2 linked regions of the Homo sapiens genome follow. The protein of the gene in region 1 purifies or fractionates together with the protein of each later gene. This does not show direct contact. Each region holds a gene or a part of one and is shown in the gene's direction. Other genes may lie near its edges.

Region 1 (4,233 bases):
TATCTCCAGCAGGAAATGAGAGATTCATCTGTGTTCTGCTTGAGTAGATTGAAATCTTAGCAAATTCCATTTAGAGAAAGGGGCGTGGAGAGGGGCTATTAGGTTCAAGGGGGTGGGTGGGGGGAAGATAACAAAAATGAAGGGAAAAGAACCAAGAAAAACTAGAAAAACAGCTTCAAAAACACGCTTTCCTGGCACAGCTTGTCACATTTATTTTCCTAAGTCTCCAGGAGGACTATTTGAACAGAAGTGTCTGTATACCCTGAGATTCCCACGCTGGCAGCCTTTGAGAAGCGAGAAGGAAGAGGACTCTATTCCGCCCCTTGAACCCTTTTCTATCCTATATGAGATGGCTCCTTAGAGATGGTGGAGGAGAGCAGAATGTGGCTAGTGTGTTCCGGAGATGAGTGGCATCGGAGGTCACAGCCAAGGCTGGTAACTCTTAGCCCCACCCACCTTTTGTTCCTTCCCCCTGGCGCTCAGCCTCACCTATTTCAAACTCTTTCCTTCTTTTGTACTAGTCGCTCGCAATCTTTGGCCTTCTCATCTTTGGCCGTCTCATCTTCCTCGCAGCCTACGGCACCTGGAGACCAAATCAACCCCCAATCTTGCAACCCTCCAGGGACTCAGGCAGAAACTGGGCATGCTCAGCGGCACGGGCAGCTTTCAGTCTTTCCCGAGGCGCGGCTCAGCGCTGGGCAGGGACCTGCGTGCCAATTCAGTTCGGGCTTCGGCACCCACCTCCGCTGAACCCAGGGATCCGAGCTGCACCCTGAGGCTAAATCTGCACCCTTAGGTGGTTCATTGTCAATCTTCAACCTGCTGAGCGCCAACAGAGCTTACAAATATTCCTCATTAAGAAACTGTTTTCCCACCTGTGTTTTCCTTGCAGCTAAGGGTGCTTTAGCTACTGCGGCGTGAGGAGCTCAGGGACGGAGCCCTGTGGCCGGTGGCCGTAGAGATCACCTTCCCAGAGTAGCTGTTTGTCACTGAGTTTTGGAGATTTCTTGGCTGGCTTCCGCTAAAGCACGCTTGAGTAATCCGAGCTGTGGCGGCGCCCAAGCTACCAAGATAAAGAGAGCGTGTGTGTGTGTGTGTGTGTGTGTGTGTGTGTGTGTGTGTGTGTGTGTGTGTGTGTTAGGGGGAGAGGGCGGGGATAGAAACGTCAACCCCGCCGACCCCCAGCCTCCTTTTCTCTCTCTCCTTCCAGCAAAACCGGCACAAGTCTTCCATCCCCCCTCAGCCATTCCTTACTGCTCTGGGCAACCGCCAGGTTAAGCCCATTTGCACTGGGAAATTGGCGCTGTTTGGGAGAAGAGAAACAGATCGATTGCCCTTGTGACTCCCCGCCCCCTTCCCACCCCACCCCCACAGCTCCCTCCCTCTTTCCCTCCCCCGCCACCTCCCCTCACCCCGCCTCCTTCCCGTTCCCCACCCCCAAACCCTCTCACCCGCGGCAGTCCGGTGCGAGGCCCCCTCCGGAAGGTGAGGGGAATGGATTGGACTCCGGTGGGGAAAGCGGGTGTCTAGAAGTGGTGCTAATGGGAAGAGAATTCTGGTTTCAAAAGAGGATGCTCTGCCACAAAGAGCGGCTCGCGCGCTGGCCTGGGCTCTAGCCGAGGAGAGATCCCGGGAGAACTCCAGAGCTCCGGGGGAGCGCTCCTCGGAAGACCGGGGCCAACATGCCTGTGCGCAGGGGGCATGTGGCACCACAAAATACATTTCTGGGGACCATCATTCGGAAATTTGAAGGGCAAAGTAAGTTCGTTTGTTCTCTTCTCTCGCCCTCGCTTTCTGCCTTGTTAGTGCACTTGGCGTCCACCGCTTCCAAGGTGGGGAGACCGGCAACTCCAGGCTCTGTCAACTTAAGAGGCTGTGAAACCGAGCCAGGAGGTTCGAATGGCAGCGGGAGTGTTCTTCTGATATTAATTTTGATTTACATTTTAGATTACGGTCTCCATTATAGGAGGCAATTTGATCCTCCTCTACCACTGCTCCATTATCTGCCTTGCTACTTAATTTCCTACTATTCTACTATCTTAAAGGGAACGTGCTAGGATAACATGGGTTTATATTTTGAGGCTGTTTTACTGTAGACTTTCTGAAAGTCGGAAGCAGAGCAGACCATACTATTCGAACAAGAGAATGTAAATGGTAGTAGCGATGTAAATGACTATGCAAACTATATTTTACCTTGGTTAAACTGCAAAGCAGTGGTATGACACGGATGCTTGCTTGCTATTAATTTATAGAAGCTAAATTTTGTATTGAATCAATGCAAATATATCCTAAGCAGGGTAATTTGGAAAAGCAGTATCTCATCTGTGCTGGTTCCCGATGCAAATGGCTCATTATTCAAAATAATATTTCTATTCTTTTATTATCCCCTTAAAATTTCCATCTAGAAATTTAAAAATTGAAGTGTAATAAGTAAATCCCACAAAGACTGAATGCACAGAAATTTAATGTTCTCATGTGGACTAAATATAGGGAATAAATTGTTGCTATATAAATATATTAATTTAAAATCCTGTATTTGTTAACTTATCTTCGGTCTTTTCTTAAAACTATATTAATACATTTGTATGCCATATATTTTGCGGTTATTTCAGCACTGCATTTAGTGATGTGAGGATCTGGTACCTTGCGTACAAACTAAACTTGTATATCCTGCTTCACAATCTATGTGGAAATAGTAAATACAATCTGTGATGTAAATTAATAAGCTCTTTATATTAAGAATTCCTGCTACTACAGAAAACTTCAAGGATCTCCCAAAGTAAAAGTAAAAAGGTTGTCATGATATTTACTGTGTGTGTGTAAATATTTTTCTTTTGGGAAATATATATTATGAAAATGTGAATCTTTGCCTTGTTGAATTGCTATTAAATATGAAGTAGTTTCATTACTAAAGCTAGTTGCCTTTGTTTTTAACATGATGTGTGTAACATGCCTAAGAGAGATAGGGAGAAGCCAAAGAATAATAACTACTTTGAGAAAGTTGTATTCAAAGGGCCAAGGTTGAAATGAGAAATCTGACAACTACAGAATGTTTCACTGTTTGACTTTGAAAATATTTACATTACAATTAAATGACATTCTGAAAATATCAATGGGCAGCTGCTTGTCTGAGTGTCCACTAGGAACCCCCGCAGTTGCAGGGCTTGAGAACTAGTCTATTTGGGAAATTCTATTCTTGCAATTTTAAGAGTGGTTTCTTAATACTTTCTGTTAAAATTACTTAGGATCATTAATCTCACATTTAAAGTTTGTGGGGTTTCTTGTGTTTTCTTTTTTCATAAGGGCTGGAGAGATTAGTAATTTGGGGAGGCACCTGCATTTCAGAGCTCTTATTATGCAACAAATTGCTTCAGTGTTACGGAGAATATTGTGGAAGCTTTTTCAAAGATGCCATACTGTCTTCTTATTACAGATAAAAAATTTATCATTGCAAATGCCAGAGTGCAGAACTGTGCCATCATTTATTGCAACGATGGGTTCTGTGAGATGACTGGTTTCTCCAGGCCAGATGTCATGCAAAAGCCATGCACCTGCGACTTTCTCCATGGACCCGAGACCAAGAGGCATGATATTGCCCAAATTGCCCAGGCATTGCTGGGGTCAGAAGAGAGGAAAGTGGAGGTCACCTACTATCACAAAAATGGTAAAATTCCTCTATTTAGGATTCCTTCTATTTGATCCCATTGAAAAGAAATTTTGACTATTAAAAGTTCATATGCAAAGAAGCCCAAAATGTTCAATTGTAGATATATGCTTTGCATATAGTATTTTGGGATCCAACATATATGGGTATTCTGATTAGTGGTCTGGTAGAAACAATTTTTTCTTTGAATAAGGGTACTGTAATCTCTTCAAAAGTACAGTAACATAATGTCACTGAGGTTAAAATGCTACAAATCAGTCTTAGATGCTCCTTTCTTTAAGGAATTAGAGAAAGATGAACAATGTACTGCTTGCATTGGTATGCATTTGGTAGGCGAGAAATACAGATACAGTGTTACTTGTTTGAACTTTAAAATACTCCACAAAGCAAATTTATGTTGAAAACTATATCTAAAACTAAAACTATTACAGTTATGTCTCTTGGCTCTTTAGCTTTAGTTGATAGGCAACACCTCTTGTTTCTTTTGCTCCTTCTTACAACATTAAGGATGATAAATAGGAACTTTTACCTTGATCCAGTTAACCTGTGCATATTCAAACAATAAAGGC
Region 2 (3,500 bases), on another chromosome or scaffold:
CAAACATTTAAAAATGCCAACTTTGCTGGTAATCAGAGGAGAGGCATGTTAAGTTAAAACAACATTGAAATACCATTTCCTTCCTCAAGATTGGCACACATTTTGACATGACAATTTCTGTTGGCCAGAGTATGGGAAAACAGGTGTCCTCATAAACTGCTCTTGGGAGTGAAAATTGGTATCACAACTTTGGAGGATAATTTGACAGTAGGTGTCAAAAAAGATTTTATTATTTTTTTATTTTTTTTTGAGATGGAGTCTCACTCTGTTGCCCAGGCTGGAGTGCAGTGGTGCAATCTTGGCTCACTGCAACCTCCATCTCCCGGGTTCAAGTGATTCTCCTGCCTCAGCCTCCCGAGTAGCTGGGATTACAGGGATGCGCCACCATGCCCGGCTAATTTTGTATTTTTAGTAGAGACGGGGTTTCACCATGTTGGCCAGGCTGGTCACGAACTCCTGACCTCAAGTGATCTGCCCACCTCGGCCTCCCAAAGTGCTGGGATTACAGGTGTGAGCCACCACACCCGCCAGATGTCAAAAATTTTCATGGGCACAGCCCGTGATCCAGAAGTTCCGCTTCTCAATGTATACCCAAGATAAATGCTTGCATGAGGAGACATTTGCAGGAGTGTTTATTGCAGCCTTATTTGTAGTATTGGATGCCCCCCAAATGTTTGTCAGTGAGAAGGCACTGCCCCTGGGTCATGTGCACACCATGAGATGGAGCATTTGAGCCTCGGCTCGCTGGGACACATGGATTAGTGAAAAGGGCAGATTGCAGAACAGGATGGGCTAGTCTATTTCCATTCTTATGTTTAAAAAGAAAACTCAATCAACACCAGCCTGGGCAATGTGGCGAGACCCTGTCTCTACAAAAAATACAAAAAAATTAGCCAGGCATAGTGGCACGTGCCTGTGGTCCCAGCTACGAGGGAGGCTAAGGTGGGAGGATGGCTTAAGCCCAGGAGGTTGGAGTTTGCAGTGAGCTAAGATTACACCACTGCACCCCATCCTGAGTAACAGAACTAGACCCTATCTCAAAAAAGAAAGAAAAAGAAAACTCAAAACAAAAAAAGGAAACAGACAGGTAGTTGCCAGTGGCTGGAGTGGGAAGAGGATTTGATGATGAAGTGGCATGAGCGAATTTTCGAGGGTGATGGAATTGTTTTCTTTTTTCTTTTTGAGACAGAGTCTCACTCTGTCACACTAGGCTGGAGTGCAGTGGCATGATCTCAGCTCACTGCAACCTCTGCCTCTCAGGTTCAAGCAATTCTCCTGCCTTAGCCTCCCGAGTAGCTGGGATTACAGGCACCTGCCACCACGCCTGGCTAAGTTTTGCATTTTGTTAGTAGAGACGGGGTTTCACCATGCTGGCCAGTCTGGTCTCGAACTCCTGAACTCAAGTGATCCACTTGTCTCAGCCTCCCAAAGTGCTGGGATTACAGGCATGAGCCACCGCGCCCAGCCAGAATTGTTTTCTATCTTAATTGTGTTTAGAGGTTACAGAACTCTATGCATATATAAAGATTCATAGAATTGTTCACTAACATTGGGTGAATTAGAGTAAATAGATTATACTTGATTAAAAAAATGTTTATATATGCACACAAATACAAATATATTTCTTTCCCAAAGGCACAAATTATATATGTACAGATGCATGCCTTGGGCCTGATAATGACAGTTACACCTGACAGGAGGTGTGGGGTGGGAGGGGAACCAGGGTTAGGCTGGAGTGGTCAGTAGATGCTTTAGTTTTTTATACCATGTTTCAAACTTTTACAAGGAGAATATATTGAGATGTTATCTGTATAATTGAAGATTAATTTTAAAATTATATTCCTACCATTAGTATAGGCAAAATCCTATTTATAGGTTGCTGCTTTTATAATTCAGAGACTGATCCTGTTCTCAAAACAGGATAACTAAATAGAAGGACCATTCAAAAAATACCTGTGTGCCAGGCGCAGTGGCTCACGCCTATAATCCCAGCACTTTGGGAGGCCGAGTCGGGTGGATGCTTGAGCTCAGGAGTTTGAGACCATCCTGGGTAACATAGCAAGACCTTGTCTCTACCAAAAATACAAAAAATTAGCCAGGCATGGTGGTGCGTGCCTGCAGTCTCAGCAACTTAGGAGGCTGAGGTGGGAGGATCACTAGAGCCCAGGAGGTCGCGGCTGCAGTGAGCTGAGATTGTGCCACTGCACTCCAGCGTGGGCAAGAGTGAGACTCCATCACAAAGAAAAAACTTGTGTGGGCCGGGCGCAGTGGCTCATGCCTATAATCCCAGCACTTTGGGAGGCCGAGGCAAATGGATCACCTGAGGTCAGGAGTTCGAGACCAGCTTGGCCAATATGGTGAAACCCTGTCTCTATTAAAAATACAGAAAATCAGCCGGGTGTGGTGGTGGGTGCCTGTAATCCCAGCTACTCAGGAGGCTGAGGCAGGAGAATTGCTTGAACCCAGGAGGTGGAGGTTGCAGTGAGCCAAGATTGTGCCATTATTGCACTCCAGCCTGGGCAACAAGAGCAAAACTCCGTCTCAAAAAAAAAAAAAAAAAAGAAGAACCTAACTCTTGTGTATATGTGTATTGCTGTTTAATTACATCAATAATAAATTAATTAATTAAACACCAATAATTACATTACATTATTGATGTTTAATACCTGCTCCTTGTTATAAATTTAAACAATACAGACAATTACAAACCAAGTGAATGTCAACCCTTCCACCCTGCACTCCCGTTGCCTGGAGGTAGTCATCATTAACTGATTAATGACTGTCCTTCTTGACCTTTGACTCAATACCTTCACACATATGCTCAGAGTTGAGTTTTCTTGATGATGTTTTTGCAAAAGTAGAATCATGCTACACACAGGTGAGGGATCTCACACATTCGCCCCATTGGCGGTTGTGTAATAGTCCACTGTATGGATGCACCATGACTTACGGACAGATGTTGATAGATGTATGAGTTATTTCCAGTGTTTTTGCTCTTTTGAATAATTCTGCAGGAAGTTGTACCCACACCTTTGTGCACTGTGAGTATTTTGGTGGACTGGAACCGGGTGCTGTAGGTGTGTTACGCAGACATCCATGGGCATCAGATATCCCATTTCCTGCTCTGCTCTTCAGACCACCATCCCTGCTCAGGGCTGCATCCCAGAACTGTCTTGAAGAGCCCCTCCTACAGTGCCATGCACACAGTGACAGCCCAGGGGTTCTCATCAGGTGTCCACTGGAACCACCTGGTGCCCTTGATCAATACGGATCCCCTCATCCCCCGACCCCACCATTCTGAGGCAGTGGTCTGGGGTGGGCCAGAGTTTGTATAACATCAGGCCACCCGGGGGTTCCTGGTGCCCATGCCAGGGAGAACCACTGCTGCCACCCTCTCTTGACCACTGTCTTTTTTTCCTCCCAGAACAGGTTCTCAGACTATGAGAAGAGGAAGGTAAGAAAATGCCTTTACCCTTCTGTCACTCTTTTCTCATTAAAGA

What was found.
Region 2: the proteins of KCNH7 (region 1) and LRSAM1 purify together in Homo sapiens (affinity purification with mass spectrometry; one large-scale study listed by BioGRID and IntAct). This does not show direct contact.

The regions. Positions count from the first base shown.
Region 1 is NC_000002.12:162,835,968-162,840,200, reverse strand, and holds the start of KCNH7 (voltage-gated inwardly rectifying potassium channel KCNH7), read left to right. Parts: upstream 1-1,433; 5' UTR 1,434-1,682; coding exon 1,683-1,758; intron 1,759-3,433; coding exon 3,434-3,664; intron 3,665-4,233.
Region 2 is NC_000009.12:127,475,510-127,479,009, forward strand, and holds part of LRSAM1 (E3 ubiquitin-protein ligase LRSAM1), read left to right. Parts: intron 1-3,424; coding exon 3,425-3,454; intron 3,455-3,500.